Linked DNA regions of Homo sapiens. The protein of the gene in region 3 purifies or fractionates together with the protein of the main gene of each other region. This does not show direct contact. Each region holds a gene or a part of one and is shown on either strand. Other genes may lie near its edges.

Region 1 (2,995 bases), on a different chromosome or scaffold from region 3:
ACTTGGAGGAAAAAGAGTCGGCTGCCTTCTCTGTGCTCAAGGGAGTGTCCACAATAGGCATTTTAGAGCTCCAGACCACCCAAGGACCACATCAAAGCTTAAAGTTCACCACAGTGAGCACGCTGGGACCTGGTGTAATCTTTCAAGTGCCAGCAGAAGGGAGGCTGGAGAAATGCAAAGGCCTGCTGGCCTGGAGATACCATTCATCCTCTCCTCAAGAGTAGAAGCCAGTTCTTGTAAAGAAACTAAAGTCCCTAGGTGGGAACATCATCAGCTGAGACAGCCTCCCCATCATCTCCTGAGAAGGATAAAAACTAAGGGCTCATAACCCCAAGGGATTGTGGCCTGCACTGTGTGTCTGCTCCTTAGCATTCTGGGCCCTCCTTGCAGGGTGAGGACAAAGGGGACCCGAGGCCATCACCAAAGGGTGGTTCTCAGGGTCCTGCTGTCACCCATTAAAGGCTGGTTCTAAGGAACAGTGTGACAAGTACAGCAAAGGCTAACAGTACACAGATTGTGACATTTTATATTCTTTGTTAAATGGTTCCTGGTACATGTTTTAAGTGCCTCTGCTTCTAGTTTAAATGAATGACCCAGACAGAGCTTTCAAGCTGTTTCTTAGAGAATGTGTGGTTGAGCAGAAATGGCTATCCACACCTGACACAGGTCCCCACCCACCTCACACCCTGGAGGCAGCAGCATAAGCCCCAGTTTCCACTATGGTGTCTCCTCAATGACCAGAATACCCGCCAGTTCCAGGGGTCAGCAATTCCATTCTCTCTCTCCGGCTCAGTTCAGAAGCTGTGATGGTCCTGTTAGAGAGCACTGCCTGCAGGTCAAAACCTGGAAGAGGCTCTCCCAGGCCAGGCGACAACCCTTCAGGTGCAGACGGGGAACAAAAGGCTTAACCTGTGATAATCCCAACACCTTCTGAAAAAAGAGTAACAGTCATCCAGCAACGGGCCATGGGTAGGGGCGGGCGGTAGCAGGGGACACTGTCCCCTGCCTCAGCATGTCCTGTCCAGAGGGTGGGCACAGATATAGGCTCGCTTCTCAAGGATCTGCTGGGACACTTTCTTAATCTGCTCATCTAGGTTTTCTGGAGCATCTGGGAAGGAAAAGGAGAGATGGTGGGTGATCTTTCTGCACCGTGATAAGACAAACATGGCTGAAGTGGGGGCATTTTTCCACAAAGTCAGCCCACCCACCATGAAGCAGCCCTAAGGGTGAACCCCTCCTCCAGACCCCCAGCAAGTGATTCAGGGCTGCAGGGAGAGAAAGGGGTACAGCTTCATTCTCAGTTACAAAGGACTCATCCTGCTCATCTCTAACCCCCAGATCTCATGGGGTGGAGCCGGCACTTGCTCCGTAAACAGCCCATCTGTGATTCCAGCCCACTGGAGGAGAAACCATTTCAGCACCCTCCACAGCACATAACCTGTCAGCACTGGGGGGGTGTCTGGGCTACCCCCAGGGCTAGGACCTGCAAAAAATCATATGCCACTCTCAGCAAGTGCCACAGTGCTGGCGCCTACACCCATCACTTGGCAACACGACTGGGCTTTGTGGGGACACTGATCCAGAACCTCAGGTCAACAGGACTGTGAGGGTCAGAGGTAGACTGAGCTGGGCATTCCTAGATATGGTCGAGTGGCTATAGAAGAGGAAGAGCACTGCAGACAGAGCGGGGAGCACGAGCAAAGCCCTCTGTTCTCTAGGCCAAGGCCTGAGACCTCTGCAGGGCACTGCAGGGTCATTTTGGATGGAGTACAGTGGGTAAAGGGGCAGGTAAAATGCTGTCTCCAGAATCAGGTACAACCAGATGCTCCTCCCTTCGTGAGCCTTCCCCGGGCAGCTTCAAGAATACAGCCAGGGCTGGGCACAGTGGCTCATGCCTGTAATCCCAGCACTTTGGGAGGCCAAGGTGGGCGGATCACCTGAGGTCAGGGGTTGGAGACCAGCTTGGCCAACATGGTGAAACCCTGTTTGTTTCTACTAAAAATACAAATATTAGCTGGGCATGGTGGTGCGTGCCTATAATCCCAACTACTCAGGAGGCTGAGGCACAGGAGTTGCTTGAACCCAGGAGGTGGAGGTTGCAGTGAGCCAAGATCATGCCACTGCACTCCAGCCAGCCTGGGTGACAAAGTGAGACTATGTCTCCAAAAAAAAGAGAATACAGCCAGGCATGCTGGGCAGATGCCAGGGGTCCTGCGCAAAGGGCTCTGCACTTGCTCAATCTAAAATTGCCTTGGCAGGCCCGGTGCGGTGGCTCATGCCTGTAATCCCAGCATTTTTGGAGGCTGAGGCAGGCAGATCACCTGAGGTCAGGAGTTGGAGACCAGCCTGGCTAACATGGTGAAACCCTGTTTCTACTAAAAATACAAAAAATTAGCCGGGCGTGGTGGCGTGCGCCTGTAATCCCAGCTACTCGGGAGGCTGGGGCAGAAGAATCGCTTGAACCCAAGAGGTGGAGTTTGCAGGGAGCCAAGACTGCGCCATTACACTCCAGCTTGGGCAACAAGAGCGAAACTCCATCTCGAAATAAATACATACATACATACATACACACACACACATATATACATACAACTGCCTTGGTGAATGGGGCAGGTATGCACCTACAGTGCCTGGTGGGCACTGCTGCAGCTAAGCCCAGGCCTACCCAGGCCCTCGCTCAAGGCAGAGGTCTGTGAGTAGCTAGCAGGCTCTGGGAGCTTGACAGGGTCCAGAAACAGCTCACCATCAATAGGGGCCTAGAAGTGGGCCCTTCCTTCCCTCCCCCAAGACATGCCACTCACACTTGTCCAGCTGAGAGAGGCTGAAGAGATTCTGCAAGTAAGCTTCCACGCAGAAGGTGTTGGCCAAGAGAACCTGCCAGAACCGAGGACAGAAAAGATATGCCCAAATTCCTGGAATCAGACCTCTGAGCTTCAAAAACCCAGCCTATCAGCCAAACTGGGTAGCATGGCAGGGGTCACAAGGCCTGGCACAG
Region 2 (3,500 bases), on a different chromosome or scaffold from region 3:
GTGATTAAGTGAGCTTAACAGTGCCTGTTACATAATAAGCACTCAATAAATGGGAGGAATTTTCCTATTACCTGAATTGGGTCTAGGTTCACACTGTGGCTCGTCATTAAGGAGATATGTGGCCTTGGGCAAGTTACTAAAGCTTTCTAAGCTATAGTTTTCCTCATCTATAAATCAGGTCCTAATAATACTTATCTTACAGTGTTTTTGTGAGGTTCAGATGAGATACCAGCTAGAAAAGTACCTGGAATGCAGTGAGTGTTCAATTAGTGATAGCTATTAATTATAATCTGTGCTAAAGATTTCTGGACTTGTATTCCTATGTACTGCTTAGGAGCTGTGGTCCTTAGACACATGGCCCTGTCTGGCTGAGCTTCAAATAAAGAACCCCGCTAAGAAAGCTCACCATGCTGAAGGCAGTTATGGTGAGGGTAAATACACTTGGGTACCAAGAGCACTCTGGAAATATGCAGTGGGTGATTAAATATGCCAGTGTCCTATTTCTTAATTTACATTATGACACCTGTCATCAGAAACACTTTTTAAATTTACATTACACAAAATGAATCTAGTCCTTCTTCACCACGCCAAAGTTAGGATTTGCTATCTATCCCCAAGGATGATATTCCAGGCTTGTTCCCAATATGTCTTATTTTTTTGCTTATCTTTTCTCATGTAATGTAGAAAGTAGCCTCCTCTTCTCAGAGGGTAAATACAAGGGTCAATCCCTGATTTACTCTAGGTTCTTGGTGGAGAACATACATACTGGATAGAGAAGAAACCCCTTCTCACCTTCTTGCCCTCAATAACCATGAAGATGCATCCTACCACCGTCAGGGCAATCATTAGATAGCTGATCTTCACTCGCATCTTGTTCTTTGCAGCATCAAGCATCTCCAACCTAGTAATACAATGAGATCATGAGAGAAAGTTATTAACTTTTCCCTTTCTGAAGTTGCTCAGGATAAAAGGCTGTGTATAAATTCAAAATGTAGTAGTGTCTATAAATATAAATAGGGAGACCTAGAGATCTCTTTAAAAAGGGCCTAGAGATCTCATAGGACTTTGGGGAGGATGAGGCATTTTTCGTAACTCATTTATGTATAAAATACAGGATAGCACACAATTAAGTACAAAAGAAGAAAACAAAAAGAGAAGTCAAGAACAAAGCCAAAAAAAAAAAATGGGCAAGGCATATTAATCTACACTTGCTATGGTGGACCCCAATTTTGGCTCTCAGGTTTCCAAGCAGCCTATAAATGCTAGAAGTGAAACAGTCATTTCTCCCTGAGGTTCTTAAGAAGACATTATGTGATGTAGTCATCGTCTGAAAACATCTCGACAACAGATACTACAATAAGCTTCATATGTTTCAACACAAAGCACAATTCAGAATGATCAAACATTGGAGAAAGTTAACCAATGTGCTCCATATACCCAGCTTTTTGCTCTCTGTCTTGAACCCAGAATAGATTTGAGAATATCTAAAATAGTAGGAAGATCCTTTAAGCAATGCTCCTCAATATTTATCTTTTTAAACAAATGTTTTGCTAAAATTGAGTGACAGTGAACTTGATATTGTGGTCTTTGGCAAGTGCCAAAGTGCAGCTCTTCTAACCTATCTACTGAATACAGACCCATGTGCCTTAAAAAAAAGTTGATGGTTGGTTCATCATTCTTGTGTGAAACCTAAGAGGCTTAATATAGAAGAGTCTAAAGGCCAATCTACCTTGGTGATTTTGCAAGTAGGCAGTGAGTCATGGTTCTATTTTTAATTTACTTTATTTAAAGAGATGGGGTCTCACCATGTTGCTGACTCAAAATCTTAGACTGAAGCGATCCTCCTGCCTCAGCCTCCTGAGCAGCCGGGGCTATAGGCATGCATTGCCACACCTGGTGGTCACGATTCTGTTACCTCGGTGTCTGGCAGAACCTCAAGGCAGGGGATGTGGAGCCCTTATGGGGCCCAGGATTAACTTATGGCCTTCTCAGTAGATGTGTAAATAGGAAGTGATTATCTCTAGATGATGGGATTGAAGTGCTTTCTTTCCCCTGAGATATTTAACATATATTACTTTTAAAATTGGGGAGGGGAGTACTTTAAAAATGCTTGGAAGGAGGCAAAGAGTCTGGGATGTTGCAGGTGGAAGGAGGAAGATGATGAAGCCATGTACAATGTGATGTAGGAGCTGGGACCTGTGAGGCAGCATGTGGACGGGGTTCTCCAGGCACTTAAGCTGGGCCTGCAGGCTGGCAGGAACCCAAGACAACTGCTAAGGACTGTCAAATTGGTCAGTTAGGAGCACCTGAGATTCCACTAACCACAAACTGACTTCCCATGTTGACGGTATTTTATGGGATTTGAAGTGCCATGATCCTCATGAAAAGTAATCCATTCCATAGGGAGTAATAGGAATGGGCAAGTTAAGCAGTGCCTGTTCAGAACTACCAGCACAAGGACAAATGGCTGCCCAGGCCCAGAAAAGACCCTTCCAGAGTGATTCGTGAGGTAGTATTTTGGGCCTGAGGGGATCTTGGAACCAACTATTAGGCAGACTGAGGAAGGTGTTCTATAGCAAAGCCTATACAGCATCTGTTAAGGCCATGGGTGTCTACCAGCTTATTTTCTGCTGGTATAGGAAGAATTAGGGCATAGGCAAGAACCTGATGTCACTGTTATTTCCAGTATTCTCTTATTTCCCAGAAGAATACATGACTTGAGCTAAGAAAAACCAGGGCTTTCCTGCTGAAATAATTCTAGTTAAAGTAATGTGCTATCAATTTGACTGGCAGAAGCAGAAAAGCTCTATTAAAGCTGTTGTAAACAGAAAGTAAATACTACATATTTCCCTGGGAAAGAAATCCTGAATGAGCTCAGATCTTTTTCAATCATGACTTGAAACCAGAGACCAGAAGATCCAGGAATAGTTTCTTGCTGACAGGGAACTTCCACGAGCTTTGTCTGAAGTCCCTGTCCCTGAATAGGATGATGCCTCACAGAGGAGATGACATCTATTTCTCAGAATCTCTTTTTAGCCAAGATGCCAGCCAGTCAGGGTCTTTAACATGAGGCTAGGGCACTGGTTCTCAACCAGGGGAGATTCCCACCCCGCTCGTGCCCCTTGGACATTTGGCAGTGTCTGGAGACATTTCTGGTTGTCAGCACTGCCGCAATGCTACGGGCATGTAGGGGGCAGAAGCCGGGGATGCTGCCAAACATCTTCCAACAAATAGGACACCCCCCTGCCACAAAGCATTATCAAGCCCCAAATATCAATAGTACTGAGTTGAGAAACTGGGTTGGAGGAACCTGCACTCATCATCTACAAACTCTGAAAAAGTTCCATGATCCCAGCCAAGATCCCTTCCCTTAGGTTTAAGGAAGTTGGTGACAGGAAGCACTCTTTCCTGAATTCCAGAATATTGCAATTAAATACTTTTACACCTAAGGTTGAGTACTTAAGTGGATTTGGGGGAATACAGTCATTGTCAATGGTACT
Region 3 (3,500 bases):
TACAGTTAATTTAATGGAGTTATGATTTAACACTGCATCTTCATGTTTGTTTACATTTCTCTTGACTATGAATGGTGCTATGTATGGTCTGTAAGTGCTTCCATGCATATGTTGATAAATTTTATTTCTTTATAATAGATTTGTATATATATAGTAAATGATACAATAGATTAGTACCTATATATATTTCATGCATTCATGACATACCTAATTTTTCTTAATTTTAAAAAATATTTCCAGGCTATAAGGTTCATCTGCAAATTTTTTTCAGATTGCCACAAATCTCAAAAAAATTTCCAATATATTGACAAAAATTCTTACATAAGCGGACCCATAACATTCAAATTCACGTTGTTCAAAGGCCAACTGTACTTATTTTTTCCCCTGTGACAGGAAAAATAATAGTTAGCTCCCAAAAGATGTCCATACCCTCATCCCATAACCTGTGAATATGTTGTCTTTCATGCAAGAGGGAATTAAGGCTGTAAGTGGCACTGAGATTTCTTATCAGCTCACATTAAAATAGGGAGATTATCCAAGATTACCTGGATGGGCCCAAGGTAATCACAGCATCCTTAAATGTGGGAGGAGGCAGATGAGTAAGTGTCAGAGTGATACAGTATGAGAAAGACTTGACTGGCCACTGCTGGCTCTGAAGATGGAAGGGGGCCACAAGCCGGGGAATGTGGGCAGCCTCTAGAAGCTGGAGACTCCAGAGGGAATACAGCCCTGGTGACACTTGTATTTTAGCTCAGTGTGATCTATTGTAGACTTCTGACCTCTAGAACTATAAGATAATAAATGTGTCTGTGTTTTAAGCTATTAAGTTTTGTGGTAATTTGTTACACCAGCCACAGGAAACTAATACATCCCCTAAAGAAGGAAAATAGCTTATATTATATTTCTAACTTAGAAATGCATTTCTAGGACTATATTAGTTGCCAAAACACTATTTTTATTGGACTTCAATGTCTTTTCCATATCCAGATCATCCTTTATATGATGATAAAGAATAGGATTTAAATGAAGAAGGCGTCTTTGAGAGGGGACATATTCTATGATTAACTGTCAAGAGCACAGATTCTGGGACATGTCATTTAAGTATCCTGAACTATGCAAATTTCTTTACACTCTATAAAGCCCCTGCTTATTAGGGAAGATGTGCTCAGAATGTACACAATGTCATCTGCTCTAACGGGGGAGTAAAACAATGGGATTTTTAAAAGTCAGAGACATTTTAATTCCCTATTCAAGATTCCTAAAAGAGACTGCTACATCTAAAGCTGAGTTTAATTTTATTTAATTAATGTTAATTGTGTCCTAAGATAATCACATACTGAGAATAAAATAAGAGTTACAAAAAACGCAACTAAAAGGTATTCACCCCAATCAAATGGAGCTCAATGTTTTAGAAAACAACTTAGCTTTTTCTAAGTAACCTTTTTGGCTCTTAATTGAATAAAATGTTAATTGCTATTTTTAGTTATTAATGGAGTTCCCCAAATGAACAATAAATGTCAGTTTGGGTGAATATTACATAAACCTACGAGTCACCGTAAAGTGTTTTTGAGCCTGGGCTTTCCAAGTCTTCTGGTATGCAGGGCCTGGGGCTGCTTGGCAGGAGTCCCCAATTCTGAGCTCTGTGCTGTCCAGGCAGCAGTTAAGTGAAACTGGTGGCTTGGGGAACAACCATAGGTGGCCTGGAGTTCTCACAAGCACCAGGTGGCTGAGCATGTGCTACCTGGAGAACAGATGTGCCTTACCTGAATGACAGGTGATGAATGGGTAACCAAATGGGTTGTGTCCCTGAGATTTTCAAGGAATTAGAGAACACCTCTAGCTCTTTAGACACATTTATCTTTCTGGTCTGTAAACCCAGATTCTCTGTGCAGTAGACTCTGGGCATTCATGCACTGTCACTGGTCATTTTAACTCTTCACGTCTGATCATGAGGGTCCAAGGAATGCAACGGCAGTTCCTTGATGCTCACGACAGGCCAGGAACCACTCTGCATGATGAGAGTGCCTCATTTGATGTCTACAACATGTCATAAGAAGGCTCAATTAGTGTTGTATTTTATAGAAAGGCAATTGAGCCACAGAGGGGTCACATAGCGAACAGCAGAGCAGGAATTTCAATTCAGCCAGACTGGACCCAGTGTTCATGCTCTTAACCAGACCAGAGACCACCTCTCCACTACTGTTATTACATCATGTGCTATTGTTAGACCATAAAAATATAATATTACTATCATATATTGGATAACTGTGCCAAGTCTTTCATCTAGTGCTCACTGATCCTAGTAACAACCCCATACTTGAGGCACTATTTGCCATTTTTCAGATGAGGGATTTGAAGCTCAGAGATTCAGGGACATGCACACATCACACAGCTAACAAGCGGTGCATCCAGGACTCTAACCTAGGATTGTTGGTTTCCAAAGCCTATGCTTTAAAGCATAATTTCTCATTTTGTTGCATTGTAAGTTAGAAGGCAGCTGTGCAGGAGCAAACCAGTTAACTCAGCCTGAAGAGGAATGCCCAGCATCTGCAACTCACTGTGGCTTTGTTGTCGTTTGATTATTTCTCACCAGCGTTAAACTAACCCTCAAGAAGTAATAAACCTTGCTTCTTTGGGAAAATAGCTCTAGAAAGAGATCTAACAGCCAATGCAAATCTGGAAGAATCATTTAAATTTATCACTTCTTACACATGAATATACTTTGTGAGGGCTATTCATGGAACTGATATCCTGGGTTGTATCTTTTATAAATTTCAAGGCTCTGCTTCTGGGGCAACAACAGGTTCCATCTTGCATGACAATTCTGATCAGTTGCTAGCAGCCACCTAGAACACTGCGTTGAGAAGGACTTAGAGGTTCAGCCTCAGCTTATTCAGAAAGGCTGTTGGGGTCAGTTAGCACCTTTCCCATGGGCTCTGGAAGAAAAAAATGACTGCACATGTGTGGCATATTTTAATCACTGTTGGTGGCACTTATTAAGATAAGAGCAAAATAGACGTTCCATAATATTCACATAACAATTTAAAAAGTTATTTTTGGGGAACAAAATCATTATTTATATTTGCTGATTCTGGTTTTTTCCTTCAACTCTAAAAAGCCAGTCCTTTAAAAAAACATAGTTCAGTCCTAATGAAACTACTTGGATACTGTATCAGTTCGCTAGGGCTGCCACAAGCAAATACCACAGACTGAGTGGCTTAAACAACAGAAGTGTATTTTCTCACAGTTCTGGAGGCTGAAAGTCCAAAATTAAGGTGTGGCCAGGCTTGGTTTCTCCTGAGGCCTCTTTTCTTGGCTCCTAGGTGGCCACCTTCTTCTTGTGTCCTCACACGTCATTTTCTCATCCCTAGTGATATGGTTTGGCTGCATCCCCACCCAAATCTCATCTTGAATTATAGTTCCCATAATCCCCATGTGTCATGGGAGGGACCAGGTGGAGATAACTGAATCATGGGGGTGGTTTTCCCCATCCTGTTCTC
Region 4 (3,500 bases), on a different chromosome or scaffold from region 3:
GTAAAATGTAGGTGGGCACAGTGGCTCATGCCTGTAATCCCAGTAGTTTGGGAGGCCAAGGTGGGAGGATCACCTGAGATCAGGAGTTTGAGACCGGCCTAGTCAGCATGGTGAAACCCCATCTTTAATAAAAATTCAAAAATTAGCCAGGCATTGTGGCATGTGCTTGTAGTCCCAGTTACTCAGGAGGCTGAGACATGAGAATCACTTGAACCCAGGAGGCGGAGGTTGCAGTGAGCTGAGATCATAACACTGCACTCCAGCCTGGGGGACAGAGTAAGACTCCATCACAAAAACAAAAACAAACAAAAAAAACCAACGTAAGATGTATTATACATGTAAAATATACACCAAATTTTTGAATACTTACTACAAAAAAAGGATGTAAACTTTTTATAATTTCCATACTGATTTTTTTTTTTTGAGATGGAGTTTTGCTCTTGTCACTCCGGCTGGAGTGCAATGGCACGATCTCAGCTCACTGCAACTTCTGCCTCCCGAGTTCAAGCAATTCTCCTGCCTCAGCCTCCCAAGTAGCTAGGACTACAGATGCCCGCCACCACACCCGGTTAATTTTTGTATTTTTAGTAGACACGGGGTTTTACCATGTTGGCCAGGCTGGTCTCGAACTCCTGACCTCAGGTGATCCACCCACCTCGGCCTCCCAAAGTGCTGAGATTACAGGCGTGAGCCACCACGCCTGGCCTCATACTGATTTTTATGGTGACTTCTTTATCGTGGTAAAATATATATAACATAACATTTACCATTTTAGCCTTTTTTTTTTTGGAGACAAGGTCTGGCTCTATCGCAAAGGCTGGAGTGCAGTGGCGCGATCTTGGCTCACTGCAACCTCCACCTCCTGAGCTCAAGCCATCCTCCCATCTTAGCCTCCCAAGTAGCTGGGACTACAGGTAGTCCCCACGATGCCTGGGTAATTTTTTTTTTGTATTATTTTTGTAGAGATGGGGTTTCACAATGTTGCCCGGGCTGGTCTCAGATTCGTGAGCTCAAGCGATCCCCTAGACTCGGCCTCCCAAAGTGCTGGGATTACAGGCCTGAGCCACCACGCCTGGCCCATTTTAGCCATTTTTAAGTGTACAATTCAATGACAATAAGTACATTCACACTGCTGTGCAACCATCACCATCACCCATTTCCAGAACAACTTCATCCTTGCAAATAGAAACTGTAATTCAACAAGAATTCCCATTCTCTTCTAACCCCTGATAAGCCCTATTATACCTTCTATCACTATGAATTCCATATTGATTTTTTAATATTTATGTTGAAATAATGCTTGGAATATACTGGGTTCAATATAGTCATGTGCTGTATAACAATGTTTCGGTCAACAACAGATGACACATACAATAGTTCTACAAAATTATAAGATTACAATGGTGCAGAAAAATTCCTATTGCCTAGTGACATCATAGCCATCCTAACCGTCCTAACGTTGCTGCACAATGCGTTACTCACAAATGTGTGTAATTATGCTGGAGTTAACGAACCTACAGCACAGCCAGTCGTATAAAAGTATAGCACATGCAATTATGTATAGCACATACCTGATAACGACAATAAACGACTATGTTACTGGTTTATTTATTTACCATATTTTTTATTTTACGGTGTACTCCTTCTACTTATAAAAAAAATTAACTGTAAAGCAACCTCAGGCAGCTCCTTCCGAAGTTATTCCAGAAGGCATTGTTATCATAGATACAGCTCCATGCCTGTTATTGCCCCTGAAGACTTTCCAGTGGGACAAGATGTGGAGGTGGAAGACAGTGATATTGATGATCCTGACTCTGTGTATGTCTAAGCTAACATGAATGTATGTGTTTGTGTCTTAGTTTTTAACAAAAAAGTTTAAAAAGGTAAAAAAAAAAAAATTTTAAGTTGAAAAGAGCTTATAAAGAGATAAACATTTTTATACAGCTGTACAACATATTTGTGTCTTAAGCTGAGTGTTATTACAAGTCAAAAAGTTAAAACAATTAAAAAGTTTATAAAATAAAAAAGTTATAGTAAACTAAGGTTAACTTATTATTCCAAAAAAATTTTAAATAATTTGAGTGTAGCCTAAATACACACGTGTTTATAAGATCTAAAGTAGTGTACAGTCACGTCCTAAGCCTTCACATTCACCCACCACTCACTCACAGGTTCACCCAGAGCAACTTCCAGTCCTGCAAGCTCCATGCATGGTAGATACCCTACATAAGTGTAACACTATTTATCTTTTCTTGAGACGGAGTCTCACTCTGTTGCCCAGGCTGGTGTGCAGTGGCGTGATCTCGGCTCACTGCAAACTCTGCCTCCCAAGTTCAAGCGATTCTCCTGCCTCAGCCTCCTGAGTAGCCGGGGCTACAGGCGTGTGCCACCACACAAGACTATTTTTTAAATTTTTAGTAGAGACGGGGTTTCACCATGTTGGCCAGGCTGGTCTCGAACTCCTGACCTCAGGTGATCTGCCCGCCTCAGCCTCCCAAAGTACTGGGATTATAGGCGTGAGCCTCCATGCCCGGCCCACTGTTTAGCTTTTATACCACATTTTTACTGTACTTTTATGTTTAGGTATGTTTAGATACACAAATACTTACCACTGTGTTACAACTGCCTACAGGACTCAGTACAATAACATGCCATATAGGTCTATAGCCTAGGAGTAATAAGCTATACCATACAGCCTAGGTGTGTAGTCAGCTATTCCATCTAGGTTCGTGTAAGTGTGCTCTATCGTGTTCACAAAATGACACATTTCACAGAACAGATCCTCATTAAGTGATGCCATTACTACAGTTCACCTTGTTTCTTTTTATATCTTTAATGTGGCTACTAGAAAATTTTAAATTGGGGCTCACATTCTACTTCTAATGGACACTACTGTGCTAAAATATAATGTGCAAGTAAGGAAATAGAGATGATGCTGGAATGAGTAGATACAGGACAAGTCATGAGGGGCCATCATTATCCTACAGGACACTGGAGAGCAAATAACAGACTTATAAGGAGAGTGACAGGATGAGACCACCATGGTACTAATGTGGGTGCTAGCCTGGAGGAGAGCAAGGCCGTAGGCAGAGAGACCTGTTAGAAGCTCATAAAGCAGAGCGGAGAGGCAAAGAATACTCGAATTATGGCAGAGGAATGTAGAATGAAAAAGAACCACAGCTCCTGAACAGAATGACTGCATCACAACCACCTGGAAAAACAACAAAGTCATCAACCAACTTTTAGAAATTATATGGTAATTCAGAAAGTCTGATGAGTATAAAATCAATAGCTTTCCAAACCTATTATAAAAATGTGAAAAAAGAAATCTCATTCATAATAGCAATATACCTGTATACTATTTTAAAACTACATAAAAAAACCACATAATCACATACACAAGTCTAGGAAAGAATTCAACAAGAAATGTGTCAGATCAATACAAAGAGGAACAGAAAACTTTAGTGAAGATCTAGAAGAAGACCAGAAGAGTGGAGATG

What was found. The genes of interacting proteins can lie anywhere in the genome.
Region 1: the proteins of ASPH (region 3) and ACAD9 purify together in Homo sapiens (co-immunoprecipitation; 3 studies listed by BioGRID and IntAct, with this or other methods). This does not show direct contact.
Region 2: the proteins of ASPH (region 3) and FAM162A purify together in Homo sapiens (co-immunoprecipitation; 3 studies listed by BioGRID and IntAct, with this or other methods). This does not show direct contact.
Region 4: the proteins of ASPH (region 3) and EXD2 purify together in Homo sapiens (co-immunoprecipitation; 3 studies listed by BioGRID and IntAct, with this or other methods). This does not show direct contact.

What each region holds. Positions count from the first base shown.
Region 1 is NC_000003.12:128,910,620-128,913,614, reverse strand, and holds the end of ACAD9 (complex I assembly factor ACAD9, mitochondrial), read right to left. Parts: intron 2,875-2,995; coding exon 2,802-2,874; intron 1,109-2,801; coding exon 1,008-1,108; 3' UTR 501-1,007; downstream 1-500. UniProt on the Homo sapiens protein: As part of the MCIA complex, primarily participates in the assembly of the mitochondrial complex I and therefore plays a role in oxidative phosphorylation.
Region 2 is NC_000003.12:122,404,682-122,408,181, reverse strand, and holds part of FAM162A (protein FAM162A), read right to left. Parts: intron 902-3,500; coding exon 793-901; intron 1-792. UniProt on the Homo sapiens protein: Proposed to be involved in regulation of apoptosis; the exact mechanism may differ between cell types/tissues.
Region 3 is NC_000008.11:61,519,093-61,522,592, forward strand, and holds part of ASPH (aspartyl/asparaginyl beta-hydroxylase), read right to left. Parts: intron 1-3,500.
Region 4 is NC_000014.9:69,197,998-69,201,497, reverse strand, and holds part of EXD2 (exonuclease 3'-5' domain-containing protein 2), read right to left. Parts: intron 1-3,500. UniProt on the Homo sapiens protein: Exonuclease that has both 3'-5' exoribonuclease and exodeoxyribonuclease activities, depending on the divalent metal cation used as cofactor.